Linked DNA regions of Homo sapiens. The protein of the gene in region 4 purifies or fractionates together with the protein of the main gene of each other region. This does not show direct contact. Each region holds a gene or a part of one and is shown on either strand. Other genes may lie near its edges.

Evidence for each region.
Region 1: the proteins of HS3ST2 (region 4) and ATL3 purify together in Homo sapiens (affinity purification with mass spectrometry; 2 studies listed by BioGRID and IntAct, with this or other methods). This does not show direct contact.
Region 2: the proteins of HS3ST2 (region 4) and UBR2 purify together in Homo sapiens (affinity purification with mass spectrometry; 2 studies listed by BioGRID and IntAct, with this or other methods). This does not show direct contact.
Region 3: the proteins of HS3ST2 (region 4) and MANEAL purify together in Homo sapiens (affinity purification with mass spectrometry; 2 studies listed by BioGRID and IntAct, with this or other methods). This does not show direct contact.

Annotation. Positions count from the first base shown.
Region 1 is NC_000011.10:63,653,971-63,662,010, reverse strand, and holds part of ATL3 (atlastin-3), read left to right. Parts: intron 1-2,758; coding exon 2,759-2,973; intron 2,974-3,048; exon of another isoform or gene 3,049-3,106; coding exon 3,107-3,250; intron 3,251-8,040. UniProt on the Homo sapiens protein: Atlastin-3 (ATL3) is a membrane-anchored GTPase that mediates the GTP-dependent fusion of endoplasmic reticulum (ER) membranes, maintaining the continuous ER network. It facilitates the formation of three-way junctions where ER tubules intersect.
Region 2 is NC_000006.12:42,657,664-42,665,703, forward strand, and holds part of UBR2 (E3 ubiquitin-protein ligase UBR2), read left to right. Parts: intron 1-360; coding exon 361-470; intron 471-576; coding exon 577-657; intron 658-982; coding exon 983-1,161; intron 1,162-1,992; coding exon 1,993-2,192; intron 2,193-4,520; coding exon 4,521-4,614; intron 4,615-5,594; coding exon 5,595-5,756; intron 5,757-7,745; coding exon 7,746-7,849; intron 7,850-8,040. UniProt on the Homo sapiens protein: E3 ubiquitin-protein ligase which is a component of the N-end rule pathway.
Region 3 is NC_000001.11:37,789,331-37,797,253, forward strand, and holds the start of MANEAL (glycoprotein endo-alpha-1,2-mannosidase-like protein), read left to right. Parts: upstream 1-4,516; 5' UTR 4,517-4,852; coding exon 4,853-5,402; intron 5,403-6,157; exon of another isoform or gene 6,158-6,406; coding exon 6,407-6,516; intron 6,517-7,413; coding exon 7,414-7,490; intron 7,491-7,923.
Region 4 is NC_000016.10:22,816,855-22,824,894, reverse strand, and holds part of HS3ST2 (heparan sulfate glucosamine 3-O-sulfotransferase 2), read right to left. Parts: exon of another isoform or gene 6,442-8,040; intron 1-6,441. UniProt on the Homo sapiens protein: Sulfotransferase that utilizes 3'-phospho-5'-adenylyl sulfate (PAPS) to catalyze the transfer of a sulfo group to an N-unsubstituted glucosamine linked to a 2-O-sulfo iduronic acid unit on heparan sulfate.

The DNA.
Region 1 (8,040 bases), on a different chromosome or scaffold from region 4:
CGAACTCCTGACCTCAGGTGACACGCCTGCCTTGGCCCCCAAAGTGCTGGGATTACAGGTGTGAGCCACCATGTCTAGCCTGAATGAATTTCCTTCTTGCTTTCTTTTCACTTTTTTTTTTTGAGACGGAGTGTCACTCTTTTGCCCAGGCTGGAGTGCAGTGGTGCAATCTCAGCTCACCACAACCTCCACCTACTGGGTTCAAGCGATTCTCCTGCCTCAGCCTCCTAAGTAGCTGGGATTACAAGCACGTGCCACCACACCGGGCTAATTTTGTATTTTTAGTAGAGATGGGGTTTCTCCATGTTGGTCAGGCTGGTCTGGAACTCACAACCTCAGGTGATCTGCCCGCCTCGGCCTCCCAAAGTGCTGGGATTGCGCAGGTGAGCCAGCACGCCCGGCCCCTTGCCTTCTCTTCTCTTCTCTTCTCTTTAAGACAGTCTCTCGCTATATTGGCCAAGTTGGTCTTGAACTCCTGGCCTCAAGCAATCCTGCCATCTCAGCTTCTCTAAGTGCTAGGATTACAGGCGTGGATGCTGTGCCTGGCCTGAATTTCAAATTAATTAGTTATCTTTGTGCTTTGGTAGGGAAACTCTGGTAAGGAAAGTATAATATAGTTAGTGCTTAATTTTGAACTATAGAATTAATAGCTTCTAAAACTTTTTGAGTTATTACTAGTGATATGCAAAATACAACCACCTAAAGATCTTTTTGAGCTTATATCTAGGACCTGTTGGGCAATATGCTGAACCTTCATAAGCCTTCATTTCCTTCTTTTTTTTTTTTTTTGAGACCAAGTCTCACTCTGCCACCCAGGCTGGAGTGCAGTGGCGCGATCACGGCTCACTGCAGCTTCTGCCTCCCGGTTCAAGCAATTCTTCTCCCTCAGCCTCTTCAGTAGCTGGGACCACAGGCGTGCGACACCACGCATGGCTAATTTTTTTTTTTTTCTGTATTTTTATAGAGACGGGGCTTTACCATGTTGGCCAGGCTGGTTTTGAACTCCTGACCTCAAGTGATCAGCTTGCCTTGGCCTCCCAAAGTGCTGAGATTGTAAATGTGAGCCACTGAGCCTGGCCATTTCCTTCTTCTTAAAATGGAGCAGTATTATTTACATCAAAGAGTTGTTCTGAGGATTAAATAATATATATATATGTGTATATATATATCTAAATAAAGCTTAGCAGTGGCAAACACTATTATTGATAGACATTGTTTTATTTCCACTTTTGGACTGTTTTGAGTAAAGCTGATAATGAACTTTCTGTTTTTGAGATAGAGTCTTGCAATATTGTCCAGGTTGGTCTTGAACTCCTGGGCCCAAGTAATCCTCCTGCCTCAGCTCTCCAAGTAGCTGGGACTATATGTGCGAGCCACCATGCCCAGCTCAACATTCTTGTATATATGTTTTTTGGTGGACATAGGCATTCATTTCTCTTAGGTGTATACCTAGGAGTAGAATTGCTGGATCACAGATATATTTAATTTTTGTAGATACAGCCAAACAGTTTTTTGAAGTGGCTTTAGTATTTTGTGCTCCTATCAGAATGTGTGAGAATTGCGGTTGCTTCATACCCTGTCCCACAGTTGATATTGTCAGTCTTTAAATTTTAGCCATTCTGATGGGCAGGTAGTGGTATCTTATTGTGGTTTTAATTTAGATTTCCCTGTTAAGTAATGATATGGAAGTACCTTTTAATAGGATTTGTATATCTTTTTCTTACAAAGTGCCTGTTATTTTTTTCTTATGGATTGCTATGTTGATGCTGGATGTGGGTCCTTTGGAAACAGATATTGTGAATACTCTTCCCTAGCCCATGGCTTGCATTTTTACTTATTGAAGTCTTTAAGTGAACAAAGTTTTTAATTTTAATGAAGTCTGTGTTGTCATTTTATTTTCTTTTATGGATAGTACTTTTTTTCTTTGAGACAGGGTCTTTTTTTTTTTAACAACATTTTATTTTATTTATTTTTTATTATTATTATACTTTAAGTTTTAGGGTACATGTGCACAATGTGCAGGTTAGTTACATATGTATACATGTTCCATGCTGGTGTGCTGCACCCATTAACTTGAGACAGGGTCTTATCTGTCACCCAGGTGGGAGTGCAATGGCATGATCTCGGCTCACTGCAACCTCTGCCTCCCAGTTTCAAGTTATTCTCGTGCCTCAGCCTCCCGAGTAGCTAGGACTTACAGGTGCGTGCCACCACACCCAGCTAATTTTTGTATTTGTTGGTAGAGATGGGGTTTCGTCATGTTGGCCAGGCTGGTCTTGAACTCCTGACCTCAAGTGATCCACCCACCTCGGCTTCCCAAAGTGCTGGGATTACAGGGGCGAACCACTGTGCCCTGCCCTTTTATGGTTAGTATTTTTGTGTCCGTTTTTTGTTTTGTTTAGTTTTGTCACCCAGGTTGGAGTACAGTGGTGTGGTCATAGCTCACTGTAACCTCAAACCCCTGGGCTCAAGCAGTCTTCCTGCCTCAGCCTCCCAAGTAGCTAGGACTACAGGTATACACCACTACATATGGCTAATTTTTTAAATTTCATAGCGCTGGGTTTCACCGTTTCCCAGGCTAGTCTGAAACTCCTGGCCTCAAGTAATCTTTCTGCTTTGGTTTCCCAAAGTGCTGTGATTATAGGCATGAGCCATTGAGCCTGGCCCTGTCCCCTGTTTAAGAAGTTTTTGTTTTCCCTATATTCAAAAACATATTTTAAATATTTGACACTGATTTTTTTTCTCTGCATGAACATAGATGATGCCATGGAGAGCAGCAAGCCTGGTCCAGTGCAGGTTGTTTTGGTTCAGAAAGATCAACATTCCTTTGAGCTAGATGAGAAAGCCTTGGCCAGCATCCTCTTGCAGGACCACATCCGAGATCTTGATGTGGTGGTGGTTTCAGTGGCTGGTGCCTTCCGAAAGGGCAAGTCCTTCATTCTGGATTTTATGCTACGATACTTATATTCTCAGGTAAGATAGAATTATTTTATTTCAAGTAAAAAGTGAGACTTTAATGTCCAAAAAAGCGAAATAAGCTCATAGATTATCCTTGATGCATAAAATTTTTAATTTAAGATTTAATAGAAATTTCTTACTTCTGTAGAAGGAAAGTGGCCATTCAAATTGGTTGGGTGACCCAGAAGAACCGTTAACAGGATTTTCCTGGAGAGGGGGATCTGATCCAGAAACCACTGGGATTCAAATCTGGAGTGAAGTTTTCACTGTGGAGAAGCCAGGTGGGAAGAAGGTAAGGATGAAAATGACCTTACAGATTAACAACAACAACAACAAAATATGAACTTCAGCATGTACTGTGTTAACCCAATTAAAAACCTTTTATCAAAGAATTTAAAATGGGTAAAGTAAGAAAAGTTAAAAAGTCCCTGTTTTGTCCTGAAATTTTAGTCTGTTGTGGATAAATAGGATTTTCTGACACAGGTATGCGAAGTTGTAGCTCTGATGTCTAGCTGTAGTCTCCTTGGTCTGCTGATTGCATTATTTTAATTTTCTTTTCTGGAAAAACATTTTTGCTAAAAGCTATACAGACTTTTTTGTTTGTACCTAGCAGTACTTTATGTAGTATTCCTTAGGGCTATGTAGCATTTTTAGACTCAGTTAAAAAATATTAATCTGTTGCTGACTCTGTTAATTCCTATTTCAACATGTGTTTCCTTGAATAATTCAGGATACAACTTACTGTGTATGACAGCTTTCCTTCACACACTATTTTTGTGGGTGTGTGTATATCCAACTTGGGGAGAATTTAAAAAACACATAGCTTTTTAATTTGTTTGAAACAGACCTTCTGCCTGTTACATTTTGTGCTCTTAACCAATTAAAGAAGCCAGTGGCAGCCGGGTGCTGTGGCTCACGTCTGTAATACCAACACTTTGGGAGGCCAGGGTGGGCAGATCACAAGGTCAGGAGTTTGAGACCAGCCTGGCCAACATAGTGAAACCCTGTCTCTACTAAAAATACAAAAAATTAGCTGGGTGTGGTGGTGGGTGCCTGTAATCCCAGCTACTTGGGAGGCTGAGGCAGGAGAAACGCTTGAACCCGGGAGGCAGAGGTTGCAGTGAGCCGAGATCACACCACTGTCCTCCAGCTCGGGCGACAGTACGAGACTCCGTCTCAAAAAAAAAAAAAAAAAGCCAATGGCATTTTTAGTTTCATATTGTGTTTTCCACTGGTATATACCTGTTGATTTGTTTGTGTCTTTTATGAACTGTTATTTTCTGAAATTTTTTTTCAATAAAAGGAAGGAAGATGTGAAAACAACTTTTTATCAAAGTGAATGATTTAAAATTAATACATATTGATTGTTTTTAAGATTCTTAAATAAAATGCATGAATATAGTTTAAAAGGTCAGGTACTACTGTAAGGCTTCTAACAGAAAGCAGCTGTCATGTGTGTTATTCTCCTCTCTACCCAGTTTTCACTTCCCAGAGGCTGATGCTCTTATGTGTTACCACTTCTGTTCTTTACTTCCTTACTCCTGTATGGGTGGCACAGACCTGGCTGTTGTTCTGGGAGTTGAGCAGGGAAATGGCATTGGGGATCTCACTGTTCAGAAGGTGGGCATTCACTATCCCCTAGCTATCAGTAGGGCTTCTTAGCCCCAGTCTCATCTATGCCTTGTAAGCTATGGGCATAGAGCCTCTCCACAGATTTCTTTGTAAGGATCGGGAGGGGTAAGTCATGTGTTTCTTATACAGACTTTCATCCATTACTTCTGTTTTTAGCCCAATCCTATAAGCATGCCTTCACACCTGTTTGTCCTTTTTTTTTTTTTTTTTTTGAGATGTAGTCTCACTCTGTTGCCCAGGCTGGAGTGCAGTGGCACCATCTTGGTCACTACAGTCTCCGCCTCCCAGGTTCAAGCAATTCTCCTGCCTCAGCCTCCTCATTAGCTGGGAGTACAGGTGCACACCACCATGCCTGGATAATTTTTGTATTTTTAGTAGAGACAGGGTTTCACAATGTTGGCCAGGCTGGTCTGGAACTCCTGACCTCGTGATCCGCCTGTCTCAGCCTCCCAAAGTGCTGGGATTACAGGGGTGAGCCACCACACCTGGCCACCTTTGATATTTTGAAGTGCTGGAGTGTTGGTACTGAATTCTTTTAGCTTTCATACATCTGAAAAATCTTTATTTTGCCTTTGTTTTGGAAAATATTTACTCTTAGTGTAGAGTTCTAGGCCAACGTATTTTTCTCAGTACTTCAAAGGTGTTGCCCCTTTGCCTTTTTGCTGACATTGTTTCTTTTTTTTTTTTTTGAGAGGGAGTCTCTCTGTTGCTCAGGCTGGAGTGCAGTGGTGCGATCTCGGCTCACTTCAACCTCTGCCTCCCGGGTTCAAGCAATTCTCCTGTCTCAGCCTTCTGAGTAGCTGGGACTACAGGCGCGCACCACCACGCCTGGCTAATTTTTGTATTTTTAGTAGAGACGGGGTTTCGCCATATTGGTCAGGCTGGTCTTGCACTCCTGACCTCAGGTTATTCACCTGCCTCTGTTTCCCAAAGTGCTGGGATTACAAGCATGAGCCACTGTGCCCAGTCTGCTGACATTGTTTCTGACAAGAAATACACTGTTATTCTTATTTTTGTTCTTTTGTACCTAATCTGTCTTTTTTGTCTGGTTGCTTTTTTCTTTAAATTAAAAAAAATTTTATTTTCGTGGGTACATAGGTATATATATTTATAGGGTATGTCTGGTTGCTTTTAAGATTTTATCACTGTTTTTGAGCAAATTATTATGTGTTTTGATGTAGTTCTTTTTTTTTTTTTGAGACGGAGTCTCACTGTGTCGCCCAGGCTGGAGTGCAGTGGCGTGATCTCGGCTCACTGCAAGCTCCGCCTCCCGGGTTCACGCCATTCTCCTGCCTCAGCCTCCCAAGGAGCTGGGACTACAGGCGCCTACCACCACGCCCGGCTAAGTTTTTGTATTTTTAGTAGAGACGGGGTTTCACTGTGTTAGCCAGGATGGTCTCGATCTCCTGACCTCGTGATCTGCCCGCCTTGGCCTCCCAAAGTGCTGGGATTATAGGCGTGAGCCACTGCGCCAGGCTGATGTAGTTCATGTTATTTGTATGTGGGTTTTGTTGAGCTTCTTGAATCTGCAGATTTATAATGTTTATCAAATTTGGACATTTTAAGGTTATTATTTCTTCAAGTTTTTTTGGTCTGTTACTCCCTTTGGAGACTCCTATTACATGTGCCTCTTGCTGCTTGAAGTTGTTCCACAAGATGTTCATTTAAAATTCTTTGGCCGGCGCGGTGGCGCACGTCTGTAATCTCACACTTTGGGAGGCCGAGGTGGGTGGATCACCTGAAGTCAGGAGTTTGAGACTAGCCTGACCAACATGGTGAAAACCCATCTCTACTAAATACAAAAAATTAGCTGGGTGTGATGGGTCATGCCTGTAATCCCAGCTACTTGGGAGGCTGAGGTGGGAGAATCGCTGGAACCCGGGAGGTGGAGGTTGCAGTGAGCCGAGATCGCACCATTGCACTTCCGCCTGGGCAACAAGAGCTAAACTCCATCTAAAAAAAAAAAAAAAGGCCAGATGCGGTGGCTCACGCCTGTATTCCCAGCACTTTGGGAGGCTGGGGTGGGCGGATCACCTGAGGTCAGGAGTTCGAGACCAGCCTGGCCAACATGGTGATGCCCTGTTGCTACTAAAAATACAAACATTAGCTGGGCGTGGTGGCGCCCACCTGTAATCTCAGCTACTTGGGAGGCAGAGGCAGGAGAATTGCTGGAACCTGGGCGGCGGAGATTGCAGTGGGATTAGGAAGAGTACTCAGTCTTGCCTCAGTAATGAGGAATAACAACACTCTGGTTCCATTTAACAAATCTAAACAGCAAGAACAGAAAAAACCAGAGTTTCCAAATTACTTAACTACATCTCAGAATAAAGCTAGATATTTTATAGGAATGCAAAAATAACCAGCACCCAACAAGGGAAAATCCACAAGTCTACATCCTATCAAAAATTTGCAGACATAAAAGAAGCAGAAAAATATAACCCAAATGAGGAGAAAAATCAATCAAAACTGTCTCAGAACTAACACAGATATTAAAATTAACAGAAAACAACTTTTTTTTTTTTTTTTAGACAGTCTTGCTCAACTAAAAATACAAAAATTAGCCGGGTATGGTGGTGTGCACCTGTAATCCCAGCTACTCAGGAGGCTGAGGCAGGAGAATCGCTTGAACCTGGGAGGTGGAGGTTGTGGTGAGCCGAGGTTGCGCCATTGCACTCCAGCCTGGGTGACGAGCAAAACTCTGTCTCAAAAAAAAAAAAAAAATAGGCCAGACATGGTGGCTTAGGCCTGTAATCCCAGCACTTTGGGAGGCCGAGGTGGGTGGATCATCTGAGGTCAGGAGTTCAAGACGAGTCTGACCAACGTGGTGAAACCCTGTCTCTACTAAAAATACAAAAATTAGCCGGGCATGGTGGCTCATGCCTGTAATCCCAGCTACTCGGGAGGCTGAGGCAGGAGAATCGCTTGGACCTGGGAGGTGGAGGTTGCAGTGAGCCAAGATCGTGCCATTGTACTCCAACCTGGGCAACAGAGTGAAACTCCGTAATCCCAGCACTGTGGGAGGCTGAGGCGGGCGGATCATGAGGTCAGGAGATCGAGACCATCCTGGCTAACACAGTGAAACCCCGTCTCTACTAAAAATACAAAAATTAGCTGGGCGTGGTGGCGGGCGTCTATAGTCCCAGCTATTTGGGAGGCTGAGGCAGGAGAATGGCGTGAACCTGGGAGGCGGAGCTTGCAGTGAGCCGAGATCGCGCCACTGCACTCCAGCCTGGCCACAGCGCAAGACTCCGTCTCAAAAAAAAAAAAAAAACAAATTGTATCTTTATTTTGTTTTAGGTTTTCAGGAAAATTAATTGCAACCTGCCCAGTTCCCACATTCTCCTTCAGTTTGCTCTGTTGTTTACATCTTGTAATAGTGTGATACATTTGTTACAATTAATATTTGAACCAATATATTGTCATTAGCTAAAACCCATACATAGTTTACTT
Region 2 (8,040 bases), on a different chromosome or scaffold from region 4:
AACATATTTGTGCATATATGCACCTCTTAATGCTAATTTATTTTTAGACCTGTAAAATCTGAGACACCACTTATTTTTAGCTGAATTTGTATGTAATTTTGCTAAAGGGATGTTAAAATAATCATTTGCTATAAAAAGTCACTTTTGAATCCTTAAAGAATTCTAGTTGTTGGCAACTTGTTTGTAAAAGACAAATATGTCACATTCTCAAGAAGTATTGAAAATCTCTATTTTGGTAGAGCCATAATCAAATTATGGGCAATAGGTGTTATAAGCAACTGCATTTATGTTCCTGTGCGTAGGAATAAGTACTATGAAGTATTAGCTATTGTTATTGTGCCTTTTATTTTTCTGCCGTAGAACCTGGTGAAGCGCCAAAAAATTCTCCTAGCATACTAGCTATGCTGGAAACACTACAAAATGCTCCCTACCTAGAAGTCCACAAAGACATGATTCGGTGGATATTGAAGGTAAAATTTCCACATTCCTCTGCTTTTTGTGAGAAATATTGAATATTTGTTATGTGTACATTGTGATCATATTTCATACAGGATACTGATACTTTTTTTTTTGTAGACTTTTAATGCTGTTAAAAAGATGAGGGAGAGTTCACCTACCAGTCCCGTGGCAGAGACAGAAGGAACCATAATGGAAGAGGTATAAACAGTAAAAAGTGTGATAATACTAAAAAATTACAGCAAGTTCAGTATGAACAAAATAAATTTATCTACATTAAGTTGCCAGTTACTCACAACATTTAAATTCCAAGAAATATGCCACTATTTATCTCTATTTGTTGTAGCAATTTTTTGTCTGCTTTTTTTCTTTAAAACAAGTCAGTTTAAGAGTCTTTTCTCTTATTTAAATAAGTGAGATTATAGAATAGTTTTTTAATTGGTATTTACAGTGAAGATATTTCTGCTTTGGAAAAAAATGTGCGTTTTAGCATCTAATTGTCTAATTGAATGGAGCATAATTTCAGAGTTCAAGGGACAAAGACAAAGCTGAGAGGAAGAGAAAAGCAGAGATTGCCAGACTGCGCAGAGAAAAGATCATGGCTCAGATGTCTGAAATGCAGCGGCATTTTATTGATGAAAACAAAGAACTCTTTCAGCAGACATTAGAACTGGATGCCTCAACCTCTGCTGTTCTTGATCATAGGTAAAAAAAAAAAAAAAAAAAATTAATGTCTTGACGAGTTTTTCCCAACTAGGGGCAGTGTTGCGTTTTCTCCTTGTAAGTATACTTTTAATCCTAAAGTAATTTAGTAGAATTCATAGGTAAATTTTGTGACCTCCATTTAGAAGATTTAATCTTAGAAGTCTCTGAATGTAGGTATGGTAAGTCCTGTGTACACCTGGTAGGGTATTTTCTGCAGAAGACCTTGGACATTCATGAAAGAATGAGTACACTACACTCAGTTACCTAGAGCGTATGACATCTGTGTTGAAGATTAGATTACTGTGAGGATTAAAGGAGATGGTTTTGATACATACCAAAGACTTGACAATCCAAGTTATCAAAACCATGTGTTAAATATATACATTCCTGGCTGTGCGTGGTGGCTCACGCCTGTAATCCCAGCACTTCGGGAGGCCAAGGCGGGCGGATCACAAGGTGAGGAGTTCGAGACCAGCCTGACCAACATGGTGAAACCCCATCTCTACTAAAAATACAAAAAAAAAAAATTAGCCGGGTGTGGTGGTGCATGCCTATAATCCCAGCTACTCAGGAGGCTGAGTCAGGAGAATTGCTTGAACCTGCGAGGCGGAGGTTGCAGTGAGCCAAGATTGTGCCACTCACCCCAGCCTGGGTGACAGAGCAAGACTCTGTCTCAAAAAATAAATAAATATATATACACACACACACACACACACACACACACACACACACACACACTACACACACACACACATACCTGTAGTCTGCTATTTTGTGATTATATAGAAAGTTTTGGGATCATTAATTATATTCATAACCTTTGTATTGCAGCCCTGTGGCTTCAGATATGACACTTACAGCACTGGGCCCCGCACAAACTCAGGTTCCTGAACAAAGACAATTCGTTACATGTATATTGTGTCAAGAGGAGCAAGAAGTTAAAGTGGAAAGCAGGGCAATGGTCTTGGCAGCATTTGTTCAGAGATCAACTGTATTATCAAAAAACAGAAGTAAATTTATTCAAGATCCAGGTAAGTCATAGCTAGATCCTCATCTTCCCTTTTAATAACAACTGCCAGTTAATGTGGTTGGTGATACGTTGAGATTTTTTAAACCTAAAAATAACTCCATGGACTTGGATGGTATCTTTGGCAGGTAACTTAGGCAGGAATTCCCCACTTGGCAGATGTGGAACCACTCCAGAAAGTTGCACCTGAATCACATAGCTGATAAATAGCAGGGATTCAAAGAAAAGCTTTTCTTTGTGATGTAACATTACATACTTTGGCATTTCACAGTCTTTTCCATCCTTCAGTACACTTGCAAAGTCCTGGTCATTTGTTGACACACTGAAATAATAATTGTTTTGTCTTATTGATAGAGCCTGAGTGGAATCTCCTGAGAACAGTGATGGAGAGTTACCTATGTAAGAGGCAATCCTTGAGCCAAATTGTTTTAGAATAGTAATACCACCACAGATCGGGTTCCCCAGAAAGCAGATTCTTGGGATACAGATTACCGTGCAGGACAGTTGAGGGCCCTCTTTCAGCAACTGAGGGAGTAAAGCAGGGAGATCCAGTCCGCACATGATTTTGTCCACCACAGACACATTTATTTCTCTGCTTGTAGGTTGTGCTCTGTGTGCGTGTGCTTCAGCGATACCCAGTAAACTTCTTGAGAGTAGGAACTGTGTCTTGGGAATTCCCAGAGCACTGCTTTAACCAGTGCCTTTCACACTGCAGCGTGAAAGGAGGTTTGAGAGCCCACTTTTAGAGTTGCCTTCTCTCTGTAAAGAAAGTCTTTGCATCCTACTTATGAAAGGTTGGTCTGCTTCATCTTTAAAAATGGTCATTTAGGCTGGGTATGGTGGCTCATGCCTGTAATCCCAGCACTTTGGGAGGCCGAGGCAGGTGGATCACCTGAGGTCAGGAGTTCAAGACCAGCCTGGCCAACATGGCGAAACCCCATCTCTACTAATAGTACAAAAAAAAAACTAGCCAAATTTGGTGGCACGCGCCTGTAGTCCCAGCTACTCAAGAGGCTGAGGCATGAGAATTGCTTGAACCTGGGAGGCAGAGGTTGCAGTGAGCCGAGATTGCACCACTGCCCTCCAGCCTGGGCAACGGAGCGAGACCCTGTGTGGTTTTTTTGTTTGTTTGTTTGTTTGTTTTTAAAAAAAAAAAAAAAGGCCAGGCGCAGTGGCTCATGTCTGTAATCCCAGCACTCTGGGAGGCCAAGGCAGGCAGATCACAAGGTCAGGAGATCAAGACCATCCTGGCTAACACAGTGAAACCCCATCTCTACTAAAAAATACAAAAAAAAATTAGCCAGGCGTGGTGGCAGTTACCTGCTACTCGGGAGGCTGAGGCAGGAGAATGGCGTGAACCCAGGAAGCAGAGCTTGCAGTGAGTCGAGATCGCGCCACTGCACTCCAATCTGGGCGACAAAGCGAGACTGTCTTAAAAAAAAAAAAGATATTTAAACTAGGTGCTTTATAAATTTCATTCCAGGCCAAAGACAAAGTTGCTAATTTTATTTAACTTATTACTTCTGAAGAAAAAGCATTAGCTGGCTATAAGTGGATTTTCTTAATGCTTTGACATTTGCACTGTTCTAGTGTTAAAGCAAATTAAAACTATTAAAGCAAATTAAAAGTAGTTCTTTCTAGAGTGTTAGGAAATTTCGAAGATTATACTAATTTATATAAAGAATTCAAAAATTCCAAAAGAAGCCAGACATCCATCTTGTTTTTCATGATTTTTCATCCCCTTTGAATATAAAAATTAGCACCAGGACAGAAGACTCTGAATTACCTTTTTTCCCCCCATCTGATCTGGTCTGTGCTTAGATTTTTTGTTGTCACTTTGGCTCTGATGTGATTATTCGCTGTATGAGTGTTGTTAGGCAGTCTGTCCTCTAGGGGGCGCCCCGTTACTGCCAAAACATTTTTTATTAGCGATCATTTTAACCCAGCTGCCCTGAACGCACATAAGGCAGCCCCATGAAGAGAGTAGCTCTTTTACCTGGAGCTCAGGGTACAATGGGAGGAATTGGAATATCTCAGCACCCTGAAAGTGTGAAATGTTCAAAAGATTGGATATATTTAAATTCATAGTTCTAATTTCAGTTTAACAATTTGAGAATGTTTAATTAATTTGCTGTGGGTGGTGAAAATTAGAGAGTCCTACTTTCTAAATAATCCAAGGTGTTGCATAAATTGGTATCTCAGAGGAATAAACTAGCATTTCATTTCAAATTTCAAGTCTTTATCAAGGATTTTACAATTTAAAGTTACACATTTGTTATAGGAAAATTAAATGCTTCACTTTTGTTTTGTTTTGTTTTGTTTTGTAATGCAGAAAAATATGATCCATTATTCATGCACCCTGATCTGTCTTGTGGAACACACACTAGTAGCTGTGGGCACATTATGCATGCCCATTGTTGGCAAAGGTAATGTATATTCTTAATATTTGTCAAGAGAAGTTTATCTAAGGGCTCAATATTTTTTAAATAGAGGAAATTTCATTCTAGAAAAAAGGAAAAGAACTAAAAATGTTGAAAAAATCCGTATCATTGCCTAATAAATAACAAAAGTTATTTGCCTTGTCATAGATGTAAAGTGTATGTCAGATATGTTTTTTAATTTAGCTTTATATCCAAGTCTCTTCTATATCTTCCAAAGAAGGAAGTGGATCTGTATCAGTCTGTGGATGAAGAAAAGGGTTTTTACAGTAGGATAAACTCTAGAAGGGTAATGTTGTCTTTCTTTGGGTCCAGGGTGGACAACTTTTGATTCCATAGATGTTAGTACTTGCTTTGTTACTTCCCAAAATTGTAATGGCTCCCTGTGATGAGATGTCCTGAATTTGTTCTACCTTGGTGTTTCCTATGCTTCTACAAAACCAACAAATCAATAATACTATTATTCTAGAACTATGCTCACCCAGTTATCATGAACTACCCCTAACAACTAGCCACCACATTGTAGTCCCAGCTACTTGGGAGGCTGAGACAGGAGAATTGCTTGAATGTGGGAGGTGGAGGTTGCAGTGAACCAAGATTGTGCAACTGCACTCCAGCCTGGGCGACAGAGCAAGACTCCATCTCAAAAACAACAACAACAACAAAAAAAAAACAAATAGCCACCAGCCTTGGGGAAGTGGCAAGAGAACAATGACACCAAGAAATTTTTGTTGCTGCTTTGTGAATGCTTTTTTACATGGCAGTCTTTTTTTTTATTTTACTCTTTTAGAACTTTTAATCCATTTGGATTTTTAAAATCACTCAAAAATCATGTTAAAAATAATTTAGTTTAAGATTTTCATTTTTGAACTATTTGTGGAAACAAATTATTTTAAATGTTGAAGCTTATGGCTGTCATTTATGTAAATTACCATTGTTTTGATACCTCATGTTCTCTAATTGTAAAGGTATTTTGATTCCGTTCAAGCTAAAGAACAGCGAAGGCAACAGAGATTACGCTTACATACGAGCTATGATGTAGAAAACGGAGAATTCCTTTGCCCCCTTTGTGAATGCTTGAGTAATACTGTTATTCCTCTGCTGCTTCCTCCAAGAAATATTTTTAACAAGTAAGTTTTGGCTCATGACAACTATTACAAAGCAATAGTTTGCTTTGAAGATAATGAAATAATAAATCAAGGAGGAAAACTTAGTCTAGGCAATTGCATAGTGTTTTCCAGATACTTTCCAAACTCTAATCATTTTCTTCTAGCAGACCTGTGGAATGTGATTTTAGTTTTTAGAGAGGAACAGGTGAAAATTTAACAGTTTCTAAGCTATTAAATTCCTATGTATTTATGAAAACCAAGTATCTGGTTTATTTCTAGGGACCCTACTTTTAATATCTTCCATACACTTTTCAAGAGATGCTCAGTAAACTGGTAGAGGGAGATGGAACAACTCAAACTGACTTTATAGGACAGTCTAAAAATCGAATAAAACTTTTTGCTGTACTGGCCATTCATAGTTTTAAGAACCAGGCAAAAAAGTGAAAATCTGTTGGTATATTTTAAATGGAAAAATCTCAGCTGGGCGTTGTGGCTCACATCTATAATCCTAGCACTTTGAGAGGCCAAGATGAAAGGATCATTTGAGCCCAGGAGTTCAAGACCAGCCTGGGCAACATAGTGAGACCCTGTCTGTACAAAAAATAAAAAGTTAGCTGGATGTAGCGGCATATTCCTATAGTCCCAGCTACTTCAGAGACTCAGGTGGGAGGCTCGCTTGGGTCAAGGCTGCAGTGAGCTTTGATCATGCCATTGCACTTCAGCCTGAGTGACAGAGCAAGACCCTGTCTCAAAAATAAAATAAGTGCTTGCTTCAGCAGCACATATACTAAAATTGGAACGATAAAGAGAAGATAAGCATGGCTCTTTCACAAGGATGACACACAAATTCATGAAGTGTTCCATATTTTTAGCTCTTTTAGAATTTGTCTAGCAGACTAAAAAAAAATAAGAAAAGAAAATGGAAAATTTCTGTAACTTCACAGTTTTTTGGATGCTTTTAGTTACGAGTATTGGACATACTCATTTCGAGTATGAATTTGATAATGTCTGCTTTTCGAATCTGAACTTCATTTCTCAATGTAGAATTATGCTATCTACGTTGCATGCACAAATACTAAGTTATGTGAGTATAAACGATCCATTTCTGTGTTATTTGGATTCAGTTCAAAGCAAAGTCAGTTTTTTCTTGTCAGTTTTAGGAGTTCAAACTTTGGTGTTCTTAGTCTATGCTACCACAAAATGTTCTTAAAATATTAGTAGATTTGAGTGTAAGCTCATGCTTTTTAATTATAAAAGAATATCGTGGTACTGACTTATCTGCATTTGAACTGATGAAGAAATTAATTATTGTTAGATGGAGGATTAACTGTGTATAAGAAGAAATCACCCTTGTTGGATTTCATCTGTCACTTTATTGGTCCAATTTTTGGGTTTTGCCCATGAGATTCAATTATGGTTTAGTCATATTCGAATACAATCATAAAAAGAACACAGGCTTTGGAATCTGACAGAGCCAAGTTTGAATGCTAGCTTTGTCCCTTATTCGGCCTTAGTCAAGTTACATAGCTCTAAACCTCAGTTTCCTCATCTGTAAAATGGGGACAATAATAAAACCTATTACAAAATATAGGAATACAACCTATGCAAATAATAATACAACCTGAAACAAAATGTAGGGATATTTTGAGGATTAAGTCTAATACCATAAGATATTTACAGTAAAATTCCTTACTAAGTGCTTGTAACATAATAAGCACTTGGTAGATATTAATAGTGATGGTGATTATGATACTTAAGAAATTCTAGCAAATTCCAATACTGAAGAGTGAGATTTTTAATACACAGTGTTATTACCATCATATTGACAAATAATATATTCCTTTCCATTGGCCAATATCCTGATTTTTTTTAATGCAACAAATTTTCCCTTATCCTTTTTGTTTTTAATATTTGGAGTGTGTCTAAAATATGCCTGTGATCATTTAAGGAGTCTTTTGTATCTTAAGGAACAATAATAAAACACTAAATACTCTCTATAATCTTTTCTAGCAGGTTAAATTTTTCAGACCAACCAAATCTGACTCAGTGGATTAGAACAATATCTCAGCAAATAAAAGCATTACAGTTTCTTAGGAAAGAAGAAAGTACTCCTAGTAAGTTCTGGTAACCTGTTTTCATTTTTCCCTAAAGTCCGAGGTCATCAGAAAATGTATTTCCAGAAGAAGTTGTTTAAAAGTGAAACCTCCCATTTAAAATTTTGACTCATTCTAATTTTCCTTGTCTTAATAAACTAAATTTGACTTTACTGCATTACTCCTTATTCCTTAAACACACAAGCTCATGT
Region 3 (7,923 bases), on a different chromosome or scaffold from region 4:
ACTGACATGCTCACTAAAGTGTGAGAAGCACTTTAAGCCATGTTTAGCTGTTTTCCTTCTTATTTGTGGCTGAACACACATTCTAATCGATAGAATGGGTGTAATACATACCTTGAATGCCACGTGTCACATCTCTTTGGCCCACCTTGATTTTAGGAAAAGTTTTTAGGCAGAACTCTTAAGATGTCCCCCACCAAGATTCCTGTCCTCTAGCTATTCAATTGAAAATAATCTAGTTACTGTTGTGAAGGGACTTTGTGGAATGGAATGAAGTTTACTAATTAGTTGACCTTATATTTTATAATTTTTTAAATTAAAAAAACTTTTAGAGATGAGGTCTCATTATGTTACCCAGGCTGGTCTCTAACTTCTGGGCTCAAGCAACCTACCCACCTTGGCCTCCTAAAGTACTGGGACAGGTGTGAGCCATTGTGCCTGGTCTTTTGTTTGTTTTTTTTTTGTTTTTTTTTTTTTTTTGTAGCGACAGGGTCTTGCTATATTGCTCAGGCTGGCCTCGAACTCCTGGGCTCAAGTGATCCTCCCATCTCGGCCTCCCAAAGTTCTGGGATTACGGGCATGAACCACCACACCTGGCCAATAATTGACCTTAAACAGAGGAAGTTACCCTGGATTATCTGACGGCATCTAATATATCACATGAGCTCTTAAAACCAGAAGAGGAAGGTATGAGAGAGAGGTAGAAAGGGAGGTCAGAGAGATCCAAAGTGTGAGAAGGACAAGATCTGATGTTGCTGGCTTTGAAGATGGAAGAAGGGGCCTACAAGCCAAGAAATGCAGCAGGCCTCTAGAAACTGAGAAAGACCCCCAGATGACAGCCAGCAAGCAAATGGGGGCCTTAGCCCTGCAATTGTGTGGAACTGAATTCTGCCATTGAGCTGGACGTAGATCCGTTCCTAGAGCCTCCAGAAAGGAGTGTAACCTGCCAACGCCTTAATTTTGGCTTCCTGAGATTCCAACCAGAGAACTCACTAAGTCACACTGTGCCTAGACTTTTGACCTACAGAAATCATGAGACAGTAAACTTTTGTGCTGTTTTAACTGCTAAATTTATAGTAATTTGTTATGACAGCAGAAAATGAGTACATCTAGGATGGATGGTTCTGTGCGAGCTTAGTCTTCCTCACACTGGCGGCATCCCACTTGAATAAATAATGTGTCCGTCTCTCTTTATACCTGCCTCAAAACCTTCTCTGATGTCCTGGGAGCCTGCTTGGCAACAGGAGACCAGAAATACAAGGAAGTTAACTCCCCTAGGGAAAATGCTTGACCAGTGGAGGAGGGGGTCAGTAGGTAATTGCTTCAGCCTCACACCTCCTAACTCTGGGAGGCATTTGTACACTTCTGAAAAGACGTGGCAGAATTAAGTCCCCATTATCTATAGCAGCGACATCCTCAGTGCACCATTGGTTTGGCTTTTCTTTTGTTCTTGTCTCATTCTGTTCAATTCCTAACTCTTACTTCCTGAGATTACCTTCCAAATGACCTCCTGCTCCCAAGTCCCCTTCTCGGTCTTGTCAGAGATTGATAGGCAATCAATAGTCAGCTCCATCAGCTCACCTTGCTCAGAATAAAAGGGTAACTTATTGGAAGAATGGTCAAGTGTTTCACACCGCAACTAGGCCGCCAGGAAGACTGAAATCAGGACACCAATAACACTAAGTTTCTCTCTGTCCCTTCCCTCTAATGGCATTATCTTGTTTGTTTGTTTGTTTGTTTGTTTGTTTGTTTTTGAGAGAGGGTCTCACTCGGTCACCCTGGCTGGGGTGCAGTGGTGTGATCACGGCTCACTGCAGCCTTGACCTCTCAGGCTCAAGTGGTCCTCCCACCTCAACCTCCCGAGTAGTTGGGAGTACAGGCGTGTGCCACCATGCCTGACTAATATATTTTAATTTTTTGTAGAGATGAGGTCTCACTATGTTACCCAGGCTGATCTCAAAAGCCTGAACTCAAGTCATCCTCCCACCTCAGCCTCCCAAAGTGCTGCGATTACAGGCATGAGCCGCCGCACCCGGCAAATGGCATTATCTTTAAAGAGGATGAAATCTCTCCTGCAGACCAGAGAGTAAAATCCCAAAAAATGACTGGAATTGATGCCCTTTGGGTCAGTATTCATGATTGGTCCAGTGGAAGATGGGAAGCTATCATTGGACTAATTTTGACCACTAGGTCAGAGTACTAGCCCTGGGTCAAACTGTCAAGGCCAGGTGGCAGTGTCAAGGACTCCAGGCATGGCCAACAGGGGACACAATTGTTTCAGGGCATCCCAGAAATAGTGGGATGACTGGGAGCTGGGGAAACCTTCCCACTATTTTTCCAAAACCTTCACCACCCATTCCCTGTTCTCTTAGTTCCTCGTTAATGATTCTTTCTGTTTCCTTCTTAGACTCTCTCCTTCCTCTGCCTGTCCCAGAAATGCTGGTGTTCCTGAGAGTGCCGTCCTTACCCGTTTTCTTCTCTTTCTTTCTTTCTTTCTTTTCTTTCTTTCTTTCTTTCTTTTTTTGAGACAGAGTCTCGCTCTGTCACCCGGGCTGGAGTGCAGTGGCGTGATCTCGGCTCACTGCAACCTCCGCCTCCTGGGTTCAAGTAATTCTCCTGCCTCAGCCTCCCAAGTAGCTGGGACTACAGGCGCCTGCCACCTCGCCTGGCTAATTTCTTGTATTTTAGTAGAGATGGTGGTTTCATCGTGTTGCCCAGGCTGGTCGCAAACGCCTGAGCTCAGGTAATCCACCTGCCTTGGCCTCTCAAAGTGCTGGATTACAGGCTTGAGCCACTGCACCCAGCCTCTTCTCACTCTTTCTATTCCCAGAGTCACCTCACTCTTTGGTAGACATGGTATTCTCTCCAACATTTAACCCACTCCACAAATGTAATCTCATCTAGTCATGGTAATTCTATCCCCCTCGGCAATAATTTGTCTGGCATAAAAAGGCCTAAACCAGATTAGACCAAGGAGATTCAATGAGATGTTTGTTTAGGACTTCTGGGAAAGAGAAATCAGTCTTACCCTTGCCTGTGGAATGGGAAGAGCAGTCAATAGCCATAGCAGCCATTTTGTGGCATGAGGGGAACTGGGTTTGTATATGAAGTCAGTGGTGGGGAGAGTAGAGCAGTGAGACGGGAACATCTCAGGTTCCTAATGACATTGTTGGATCAGAGAAAATACCCACTCTGCCCTGCCACTGGGCTCCTTGCTTTGCAAGTTGATACACTGGCATATTCCTTAAGTCAGGCTGAATCGGGTATGGGCGACCTGGAGCTGAAGGCATTCCACTTCATTCACATTTACCACCATAAGGTCTCTCAAGCTCACTTTCCTCGGCTGCAGGTCTACCAACACTTCCCAAGCTCCCTGCTCCTCTTCCTGGGTTCCCTACAATTCATTTTACTTAACCAATAAGAACTGGGTGCCCGCCATCATCCCAAGCTCTGTTTTAGACATGCAGACAGGGAATGAAACAAAGTTGCTGTCATTGCGGACCACTGAAGGAGGCATATGATAAACAAAACTATCTTCTGAATAAATGAAGTAATGAATAATGCAGTGTAGGAACTCTATCAATAGCGAGTGAAAAGCTTATTATCTACAGACTATCACACCAGGGGCTGGTACTCACTTAAACGGCACTAGGAAGTGAGTGTCAGATGCTGTTCCGGCAGCCCTTGGCGTCTAACAAGGTAAATAAGACGGGGCCTGTCCTCTGGAGCCCAGAATCCAGGAAGAAAGGCGCACATGTATTGAGCGCTTGCTTTTCAGGCCCCGTGGAAGTGCTTTACGGGAACCATCTCATTTAATCCTCCCTGACTCTAGGAGGTTCTCCCAGGAGAGACCGCTCCAGACGACATCAGGCCTACAAGCCAAGAAATGCAGCAGGCCTCTAGAAACTGAGAAAGACCCCCAGATGACAGCCAGCAAGCAAATGGGGGCCTTAGCCCTGCAATTGTATGGAACTGAATTCTGCCATTGAGCTGGACGTAGATCCGTTCCTAGAGCCTCCAGAAAGGAGTGTAACCTGCCAACGCCTTAATTTTGGCTTCGTGAGATTCCAACCAGAGAACTCACTAAGCCACACTGCGACCCGGCAGGCTGGGCAGTGCAGCGAGCTCTGGAGAGTGCGCCCTGACCCGGGGTCCAGGCCCGGTCAGTGTGACCTTGCGCGAGTCACGGTCGTCCTCCGCCCGCCAGGCCCCGGACGGCGTCTGCAGGGTCCGATTCCTGGGGATTTCCCGACGCCCCTTCCCCCGAGGTTCAGGGGCTGCCTGGGGTGCCGGGGAGGGGGGCCGAGGGATGGGGGACCTGGGGCTAGAAGGGTGGCACTGAGACCCGTAGGGAGGGGGCCAGTGAAGTGAGTAAAGGTGGATCGACGAAGAAGGAAATCCTTGGGGAGAGAACCACCGACGCGCGCTTCTTTCCCCCCCCCGCCCCGCCTCCGCCCCCGCCCCCGCCGCGCCGCCTCTCTCCCGCGCTCCGGAAGGCCTGCGTCCCCGCTCCCCAGCCAGGCGCCACCACCTGCCGCCCAGGCAGCCAGGCGACTCTTCTTTCGCGGGTCACGCGGCCTGACTCAGGCCCCTGCTCCTGTGGCCCCGAAACTCGCCGTTCGCTGGGCCTTGCGTTGCACTCGGCGTGCAGTTCCCCCTCGGCTCGCGGCCACTTGGTCCGCGCCGCCTGCGTCCTGTGTGCCGAGCCCGCCCGCACTGCGGGGACAGGCCGGGCGCCGCCCACGCCGCGCTCTGCCGGGCGCACAGTCTGCCTGGGAAGCGCGCGGCCGGGCGGGCGGCCATGGCGCGGCACGCTGGGAGGTAGCGCGGCGGCTGCAGGAGCGCACAGTCGGCCATGGCCCGGCGGCGGCGCCGCGCCTGCATCGCTCTGTTCCTGGTGCTGCTCTTCGCCTTCGGCACCCTCATGGGTCTGCGCACGCTCAAGGCTCCGGACGGACTCCCGGCGCTGGGCCCGGGCCTGGAGCTGGCGCCCTTTGAGCGACGCCCAGAGGGGGCCCCCGCGCCCGCTGCCAGGGCCCCGGCAGCCCCTGCCGCGCCGCCCCCGCCGCCGCCGCCGCCCCGCACCGCGGACCCTGGCGGCTCCCCTGGGCCGGCACCCGCGGAGGCCGAGCCCGCCCCCGTGCAGAGCCTGCGCGTCTACTCGGACCTGCACGCCTTCTACTACTCGTGGTACGGGAGCCCGCGGCGCGAGGGCCACTACATTCACTGGGACCACGTCATGGTGCCGCACTGGGACCCCAAGATCTCGGCCAGCTACCCCCGCGGCCGCCACAGCCCCCCAGACGACTTGGGCTCCAGCTTCTACCCGGAGCTGGGGCCCTACAGCTCCCGGGACCCCGAAGTGCTGCGGGAGCATATGACCCAGCTCAAGGAAGCCGCCATCGGTGAGCGCCCCCCACCCCGGGCGGCCCTGCCCCCCAGCCTCACCCTTCCTCCTTCCCACACCCCAGCTCCCTCTGGTCCTGTCACCGGCCCTTTGGTCCCACTTATCCGCCAGCCTGGCTTCTTAGCTGTTCCCTCCCACTCTCATCCTGGGCCCACCATGCGACACCGCCCCTCCGTCTAGTATTCAGACCCCCCAGCTGGGCCCTTCCATCCCTAACATCCAGGGCCCTTCCCATAGGGCGGAACTGCTAGGAGTTTGCACCAGGAGAGGGAGGCAGAGTCTTCAAATTTGTTGGGCGATGGGAAGTGAGGCCTGGAGTCCTGGCCCGCAGGTTCTGGGGTTCAGAGGAGTGGAACTTAGGGCGGCCTCTGCTTTCATGGCAGGTACAGGGTAGAGCAGCAGCCGTTCCTGCTTTTGCTGGCTGCAGAGAGGAAAGTGTGCCCGTGTTCCATGAAGGCCTCTGCTCTATTTGCAGTTGGAGGTAGTGTTGGGGGTTTAGAGGCTTTTCATCAAGCACCCAGCTGGAGGGAAGGTCCCAGGGCGCCTCCTTCGTAGGCTATGGAGGGGAGGCTCACTTATTTCGGATTTCGTCACTGAATTTTGCTGGATTTTACAGATGGCCTCTGCTCAGGGCTCTTCTCCATGCGGGACGTTAGGGTTAGGGGTGCTTCTCTTCTTCAGAGGTAGGCCTGTGGCTTCCAGGTGGGTGTGGCACTGTCCTCCCATTCCCTTTGTTCTACTACTTGCTGAGGCAGTCTAAAGCCTGGCTCCCTTCCGGCCTGGCGCGCTACGGTTCCCGCAGGCGCTCCGCTTCAGCACCGCGGGCGTGGACAGCTCCGGGGCGCGAGGCTCTGGGACTCATCTGCAGGAAGTGAACCTGGCAGGAGGCTTGCTTCAGGTTTTTAGGAACCATTTTTGCAATTGGAGATGTTTGTGAGGAAAAAAATCTCTGTTGAGGGGGGTACTGTGTGTCTCTGAAGTGGCCTCTGTGTTGCGTCTCAGGCGTCCTGGTCCTGTCCTGGTACCCACCTGGCATGGCTGATGATAACGGGGAGCCCTCAGATGACCTGGTGCCCGCCATTCTGGACACCGCCCATCAGTACAGCATCCAGGTGAGTCTCCAAGAAGAGGCCACGTGCTCTCTGCCCTATTCTGGAGAGTTGCTCTCCTCCGCCCACAGGGTTAGTGCCTCTACAGAAGTTCTTGGCAGTAGCCCAAAGGGATAACAAATATGTGGCAAGTGTGGTTTTGGGGGAGGGTTCAGATAAATGGTGCCTATGTTGCTCTTAGTTTTTTGAATTCTAAGAAAACTGAGAAAACTAAATATAGGACCAAGAGAAGACTAAATAATTATCACTTTTGTTAAATAATAATAGAGGTTAGGTTGTAAACCCTGGTGGAAAAAGGGTAGGCAAGAGCCAAAGGGACCTGCAGACTCAACTCTCTAGTGGGAGGCAGTGCTGGACCTCGAGGAGTAGGCAGGTGTTCTCAGCAGGTGGGCTCACTTTCAAGAGGAAGGACGGACTGGACGAAGCATTTCCCCACATGTGCCAATCAAGTAAGTCATCCCTTGCTTCTGTGGTGAAGGAAGAAAAATGATAGAGAAAGAAGAAAAGCCCCACTCCCCTATTCCTGAAGAGAATTCCACCACTGACATGTCTAACAGATCACAGCAGTTTTCCACTGACACAGCTTCAGCATACTTATTCCACTGTTTCAGGCAGCTAGCACCAACCACTTGGAGCTGGCACAAGGTTGAAACCTATTAGCCACCCTGTAACAGCCCACCAAAATGATTCCCACATGCCCTGCTGCGGGAGATGGGCAAACTGCTCACCCCTGTTTTGGCCTTCAAGGGCAGCAGCTGCCTTTATCTCTACTGTGCCCACCACTGCCAGGCCCTCTTCTGAACTCAGCCTCTCCTCCAGGCCATGGTTAGATCCTGAGCCTGATATGTTGTGGCCCCTAGATAGACACTCACCTGACCATTACTCCTCTGTTTGTGGCAGGTGGCCTTCCACATCCAACCCTACAAGGGCCGGGATGACATCACTGTACATGACAACATCAAGTACATCATTGACACGTAAGGCTGCTCTGGGGGCCGGGATTTTGGTGGGGATCAAAATGGAGGTAGGGATAGAAGGTTTGGAGGGGCAGGTCAAGAGACACAGGGCATAATGCCTGTGTTTCCCAGCAGCTGTTTTATAGTAAGAGAGTACTGGGCCTAAAGTCAGGCAGCCTGGGTTTCAATTCCTGTCCTGTGGCTTCTAATCTGTGATGAGGCAAGCCTCTTAACCTTTGAGTCTTGTGAGAATCACACGAATTAATATATGTGAAAGTAGCTTCTACAATGTAGGCACCTCATTTATTCATTCAGAAAGTATTGAATGAAGGCCAGGCATGGTGTAATCCCAGCACTTTGGGAGGTCGAGGCAGGCGGATCACTTGAGGTCAGGAGTTCGAGACCAGCCTGACTAACGTGGTGAAACCCCGTCTCTACTAAAAATAAAAAAATT
Region 4 (8,040 bases):
TGGGGTTCCTTCACCCAGCAGCAAGCACTGAGGCTAGGGAGCACCCTGAGGTGGAAGAAAGCCATCTCCCTTTAATTGACCATCAGCCCTATTAAAGGCAAGCTTGGGAAGCCCTGTCATCATAGACACCCTCTGCATTGCCTCTGTTAACCAAGGGAAATTCCAGGGACCATTTTCTGCAGTGGGTCTTCTTTTACACAGTTAAAAGCACACAAAGAAGTTGCATTGTCTTCCGCTCTTGATCCAGTGAAATTAAACTGCCTGAGAAAGCAAAATTGACATCCTACCCAGCCCTGTGTATAAGCTTCATGGTTTGTTTGTTTGTTTGTTTGTTTGTTTGCTTGCTTTTTGGCGGAGTCTCGCCCTGTCACCCAGGCTGGAGTGCAGTGGCTCTATCTCGGCTCACTGCAAGCTCTGCCTCCCGGGTTCACGCCATTCTCTTGCCTCAGCCTCCTGAGTAGCTGGGACTACAGGTGCCTGCCACCACGCCCGGCTAATTTTTTGTATTCTTAGTAGAGACAGGGTTTCACTCTGTTAACCAGATGGTCTCGATCTCCTGACCTCGTGATCCACCTGCCTCAGCCTCCCAAAGTGCTGGGATTACAGGCATGAGCCACCACGCCCAGCCCATGTCATGTTTTTAAGCTTCACGTCATGTTTTCCAGAATGGAAGAAAAGGTATTTTGCATCCTGAGATTTTACAAAAGGGACGTCCTCTCTCACATGAGCCTCAAAATTAAAATAAAGAAAAGCCTTGTGCCACTGTCTCATAAATTGCTGATTCCCTAGTGAAAACAACTTTATCTCTGACTTTTGTGACACTGACGTCTACAGATACGTGACAATCTATGTAGATGTGGTAATTGTGGAGAATACTGCTGACTTTCCACCAGTAAGAATAATGAAGAAATCCATTGTAACCCTGTGAGTTGACATTGTCTTTTAAATGCTCACCACACCCTTTATTCAGGGAACCTGGTTCTTGGGAAGGCTACACTCCCTTGTAAATATTGCAGGTCAAACTCTCCTCTTAGTGCTCATATTTGTTCTGAGTTTTCTTTTGGCTCATCTCTCCCAATCGCTAACACATTAAAGAAACCTGAAAAGCTAGAAACAGTCTCACTCTATCACCCAGGCTGGAGTTCAGTGGTGCAATTATAGCTTATTGCAGCCTCGAACTCCTGGGCTCAAGTGAATCTCCCATGTCAGCCTCCCAAGTAGTTGGGACTACAGGTGCCTGCCACCATGCCTGGCTAATTTTTTTTTTTTTTTTTTTAGAGAAGAGGTCTCCCTATGTTGCCCAGGCTGGTCTCCAACTCCTGGGCTGAAGCGATTACCCAGCGTCGGCCTCCAAAAGTGCTGGCATTACCACCGCACCCAGCCCATCATTGGATTTACTTAAACTGAGTTTTCGGCAAACTCCAACAATATTTCCCATAACGTCAGTTGTGTGCCTCATCTTGGTAATTTTAGGTACTACACAGACTTACTAAATACCACCAAATCACACAGTGAGATGTATTATCTCTCCTTCTTTACCTTCATTCCTTCTGATTACATCAAGGAGAAACATCTCACATTGATATTGATATTTCTTTAACTGCTCTTAGTAGTGTCCCCTAGTATCCTCTTTTAAGCAAAGATGGAAATCACTGCAGGCTTAGAACATTCCAGTCACACTAGAGAGCAAAAATTCAATCACACTGTTTTGTTTTCAATCTAACTTATTTTTATGATCACTTTCTAATTATGGCAAGTGTTGCCGGTTTTCCATTTAGGGTGGCTTCAAAATAAAGTTGCTTTTAAACAATATTTATTTTAACTATACTTGCACAGTATGTGTTAGATTTGCAAATCCATAGCATATCTTTAGAAAGATACACAAAAACAGGTACCTATGGTTGCTTCTGGGAAGAGGAACTTCTTGGCTGAAAGACGAGGTAGAAAGGAAGGGATTAATTTTCTCTGAATACCCTTTGTCACTTTTGAATTTCACAATACAAATATCTTTTTTTCTTTCTTTCTTTTTTTTTTTTTTCTGAGACGGAGTCTTGCTCTGTTGCCCAGGCTGGAATGCAGTGGTGCTATCTTGACTCACTGCAACCCCTGCCTCCCAGGTTCAAGCAACTCTCCTTCCTCAGCCTCCCAAGTAGCTGGGACTACAGGCGCACGCCACCACGCCCAGCTAATTTTTTGTATTTTTAGTAGAGATGGGGTTTCACCATGTTGGCCAGGCTGGTCTCAAACTCCTGACCTCAGGTGATCCACCTGCCTTGGCCTCCCAAAGTGCTGGGATTACAGGCGTCAGCCACTGCACCCAGCTGAATATCTTGTCTATTCTAAAATATATAAACTGAAGGGGAAAACTTGTTCTTTGTGATAAATTATCATTTTTAAATGGGCTAACTTAAGCAAAAAAATTAAGAAGGTTGGATGAGATGGCTCACACCTGTAATCCCAGCACTCTAGGAGGTGGAGGCAGAAGGATTGCTTGAGCCCAGGAGTTTGAGACCAGCCTGGGCAACAAAACAAGACCCTGGCTCTAACAAAGGATTTTAAAAATTAACCAGGTGTGTTGGTGCACACCTGTAGTCCTAGCTACTTGGGAGGCTGAGGTGGGAGGATCACTTGAGCCTGGGAGGTTGAGACTGCAGTGAGCCTTGACTGTGCCACTGCATGAGTCTCAAAAAAAAATTAAGAAAATAATAGTAGAGGTCATGCTGGGCTTTGGCAAATGTCATGAAGGTGGCACAAAAATGTCTGAAATCTGAAAAAATTCTCCCTCCCAAATAACTATGCCACCATTTGGAAGGCAGTGTGAGAGGTCCTTTAGCCTCCACCTAGAGCAGACACTTCTGGCTTTCTCACTTGGGGAGTGTTCATGGTGGCTGGTGGCCATGGACACTGAGGTGGAGCCATTGTCAGCTCCTCTGATTTGAAAAGCTTAGGAAGACACCCAATGGACCCATGCCCAGGAAATCCACGTGATGCTCCGGCTCCAGATCACCCAAGCCCAAACCTCTGTCTCATATGCCCTGGAAAAACATACTTAATAATAACTTCCTCAGAAGCACAAGGTCATTTCCCCTCCCGGGTGGCTTTTACCCACCTCGTCAAGCTGCTTGTGAACCTCACAGTGCTTCAGCCCAGCCATGCAGCCCATTAGGAGAACAAAGTGGCAGCTGAACCGGCCTACAGCAGCCTGGCACCAAGCCTGGCCAATGGAAAGCATTTGACAAACGAATGGATTAACCTGCACCGGAGTTAGCTCCAGCAGAGACAGTGAGTCCCACAGGTTTAGGTTATCTGTGTGACTTATCAGTTCTGAGTCACTACCCCGCAAAGCCCCACTTCCCTATCACCTGCCCTGAGCCCTCACAGGTGGAGATGACCTCTCCTCAAGTCCTCCAGGGGATCTGATCAATAGGGAGCTGTGTGCTCCCCCACCCCGTCCCCATGCACCCTGTCACTCGATCATACAGGAATGATTCATAGAGGTCTAACCAAAGTTATTCTACAGCCCTGCATACCAGATACACAGAATATTACCAAAGCATTACCAAAGCATGCAGGTAATAGCACCTGTTGAGCATTGACTCTGCTTCAAATCCGCTAGGGCCCTTTGGATGTGTCTCCAGATATGTGCAAGGTACAGCAAGTGCCTCTGTACAGCAGGCCATGAAGGACATGCCCACCATCGCATCTTATCTCCTGTGAGTACCAGCCCCACACCTTCCCTAATTTCAGGATAGTTGCTTTCAGGGAGATGGCATGGGTAACATTCAAAAATATAAAATGAATCCAGCTCCCGGACCAATCAGAAGAGAGCCCTGCTGGCTACAGAGATGAAGCAGGGTCTAGTCACTGGCTCTTTGGAAGGTCCAGAGAGTCCAGGTTAGGCTGGGGAAGCCAGGTCTCCCAGGCAGAGGGCATTTCCGGAATCAGTATGGAAACATCCTATATCTTCAATCTAAGACACCATCAATCATAAGATACATGCTAATTTCAGAGATGTTAAAGACGCTTCTTAGAACCTTTCAGTGGTATTTTCACACGTTAACATCCAAAACAGGCTTAACAATGTGTGTAGCTGGAAAGTACTGGGGCTGTCAGCATCTTCTCCACCTAAAATGCTCCTGTAACAAGTGATAGGGTTTGGCTGTGTCCCCACCCAAATCTCATCTTGAATTGTAGCTCCCATAATTCCCACATGTTGTCAGAGGGACCAGGTGGGAGATAATTGAATCATGGCGGTTTCCCGCATACTGTTCTCGTGATGGTGAATAAGTCTCACGAAATCTGATGGCTTTTTACGGAGTTTCCCCTTTTGCTTGGCTCTCATTTCTCTCTTGCCTGCTGCCATGTAAAACATGCCTTTCTCCTTCTGTCATGATTGTGAGGCCTCCTCAGCCACATGGAACTGTGAGTCCATTAAACCTCTTTTTCTTTTTAAATTACCCAGTGTTGGGTATGTCTTTATCAGCAGTGTGAAAATGGATTAATAGACTAAGGCTTTGGGGAAAGCCTGTTCTTCATTCCCCTTCTCAGCTCCAAGGGGAAGGGAAACCAGCTCTTCAAAAAACTTCCTTGAGCAATGACAATTCTTGTTGCCCATTCCGAATGTTCCTCCATGCCTGACAAGAACTGTACATTTGCTGGCACTAAGTATTATATCTACAGCATGCTGCAAGGCTGACAGAGTGCTGCAAGACAAATGGGGGGGGGTTTATGGACTCAATGGTTTCATTTAATCATACTGTGTGACGTTCGCCTGGACCAAGACAGGGAATTTCTGTATAAAGGCCTAAGTCTGCATAGATGCTGCAATTGTGCATGCAGGTGCACATGTGTGGGTGTGCACACACATTCATCTATGTGCACACCCAATGAGCACAGATCAGTCTGTTTTGTGTGTTGATCAATTTGTTGAAAGATGATAAAACTGTCTGCATTAACTACGTCATGGCAGGAGGCCCCTTACCTTCTGCCTTTGATTTTATTTTTTTCTAAGGTTTGCATTTCCAGAATTGGGCTTTGCAATTAGAATATGATTTCTTGATGAAAATGAACTGGATAATGTGATAGATCTTATTCTGGGCTTTTTATTCTCTTTCGTACTTAGACTGTTGCCTCTGGGGCAAATATTCTGTCTTCTTTGCTTTGCACCATCCCAAGAACATCATCGATGCTGAACAAATAAATAACCAGAGTTGTGAAGTGAAGTCTGAAATTTATAGAACAGGCTCATCTATCAAAATTTGGACACCAGAACACAGAGTCAATTATCACATATTAACTTGCTCTTGTTGGCATTTCAATGCATTTAGAAAAGATACACTTCCTCCACACACACATTCCCCTGCCATACCGAAACACCAGCAAAATTGAGAACACTTCAGACATATCTCAGCTTTCCCTGTGACTCTAAAAACTACTACACACAGCAAAGCTTATATCTGTTTATAAAAGATGACCCTGAAGAGTCTATTTCACATCCAAACTTCCTTAGAATGGAGAGCATCCTAAAGATAACCTTAGATTTGGAAAAACATTTTCATGTAGATAGTCTTACTTGATTTTTATAAGGTTGCAAAGCAGTTCAGGCATCATTGCCATTTCACAGGTGAGCAGACTGACACCCAGATATGTGAACTGACTTTCTGTTAACATGGAAGGAGGGAAGGAAAGAGAAAAGGAAGGGAGGAAGGGAGGAAGGAAGGAGGGAAGGAAGGAAGGAGGGAAGGAAGGAAGGAAGGAAGGAATGAAGGAAGGAAGGAAGGAAGGAAGGAAGGGAGGGAGGGAGGAAGGGAGGGAGGGAGGGAAGGAAGGAAGGAGGGAAGGAAGGAAGGAAGGAATGAAGGAAGGAAGGAAGGAAGGGAGGGAGGGAGGGAGGGAGGAAGGAAGGAGGGAAGGAAGGAAGGAGGGAAGGAAGGAAGGAAGGAAGGAAGGAAGGAAGGGAGGGAGGGAGGGAGGGAAGGAAGGAAGGAGGGAAGGAAGGAAGGAAGGAATGAAGGAAGGAAGGAAGGAAGGGAGGGAGGGAGGGAGGGAGGAAGGAAGGAGGGAAGGAAGGAAGGAAGGAAGGAAGGAAGGAAGGGAGGGAGGGAGGGAAGGAAGGAAGGAGGGAAGGAAGGAATGAAGGAAGGAAGGAAGGAAGGGAAGGAGGGAGGGAGGGAAGGAAGGAAGGAGGGAAGGAAGGAAGGCAGGCAAGGAGGGAGGGAGGAAGGAAGGAAGGAAGGAAAAGGAGAAGGGAAAGGGGAGAGAGGGAAGGAGGAAGGGAAGGGAAGGAATAAAGAGGAAAGTATGGAACTATCTTTATAGCAATTGATTAATTCCTCAGCCCGATTTAGTAACAGCAGCAGCATCAGAAACTAATATTTTTAATACTAACAGAACTAATAGTGATAACAGGAGTGTTGTAGTAATTAGTAGCAATAACAGTAGTAACATTACTGCCTTGTCTTTATATATCATAGAATTTTCCAGGGCAATTTCATGTACAGTTTTGCATTTATTCTTCACAACACGTTTCTAGGATAGTTACTACAGGTCCCATTCCATGATGAGGAAGCTGAGACTTGGGAGAATCACCTTTCTTCAAATCATACAGCACCTAGGTGACCACCTCTGGTCTTCTGACTGTGGTTCCCTGTCCTGGTTCCCTCATCAGCCTGGTGTTGCTTTGCCCACCTGTCCAAGCAGCTAGGAGATACCACCCTGCAGCTCTTACCTCGGGGAGGAAATGTGGGTGGGGGAGAACCCAGGCCAGACACATAGTTGAGGTAAGCATCAGAGATGGCATGGCAGAAAGACAGCAAATTGGAGAGAACCCACTGCAGAAGGCTGGGCTCTCTGGTAGTGGCCTGAACGGGAGTGGTTCCCAAGAAGGATCAGGCTAAGGACAAGAAGGTGCAGACTCTGTCTCCTGGTCTCTCCAAATGATGGTGTCTTTCTGGCTATATCACTCGGCCTTCAGCTTTATCTCCATTTACCCACAGAAAGAAGCCCCTCCTTTGGGTTAAGGGTAAAGCTTTTGATTTTTCCACTATCTGGATTTCAGCCTCCTGATCAGGAAGTTATCACCAGGGGCTTTGATGTGGGCAGATCATACTAAGATCCACACTGCCTGCAACTCTGCACCTCCCCCTTTGGAAAGCACAGTCCACTCCAATGGGTGCAAGGGTTCTTTGGCTATGTCTGCCCAGTGGACCCTGGCTTTATGATGGCAAGCTGTGAACTGACAAGGCAGTGGACAGAGAGCGGAACATCCTGTCACCCACCGTACCTAGCTCATGGGATTCAGGAAGAAAGTAAGAACATGGGTTTTAAAAGATTCCAGAAATCCCCATGATTTCTGCAGTTAATGTGTATGACTTGGTCATAATAAAAAGAAATGTACAAAAATGTTCTTTACATACAGAAAGATGTTCTGGAGGTTATGGAAACAGCATCTAAGTGGGGTAGTATTACCCTGCACAGAAATGGCAATCCACAAGCTAAACACTTGACTCTAGGGGTGTGGATTTGTAACTGAAAGAAGCACAAACCACACAGCCTTTTCCTGACACTGGAGCCTCCCAGCCTTCCTGGTCAAGCAATGGGGAGAGGGCAATTACGACCAGACCTCTAGGATAGTCTTTTAGAAATATAAAGTGGGGAAAGGTGGTAGAGGGGGAGAGAAGAGAGAAGCAGAGCTGTCAGCATGCTTGATGTTAAATAAAACCTACCAAGACTCAGCTGAGAATTTTAGCAGAATCCAAATGTGCTAAAAAAAAATAAATAAATAAAAAATAAGACATGGCTTCCCTCTCTAAGGTTCACAGCTAAGCTTGCTTAGAATCACACATGCCAAGGTTAAAAATAAAAAGCAGCCATCCCTGAATGACATGGGCTCCAGGATGGAAGCCTGAGGTATGCTGTTTAGTGGTGGAAGGAAGAGAGGGGAGGGAGGAGAGTCTGGGTTCAGGGCATAGGTATTTATTGGAGGGCACACTATCTGAAAGCCAGATGCTCAGAATTTTGCTGTTTTGCACTTAAAAGGCA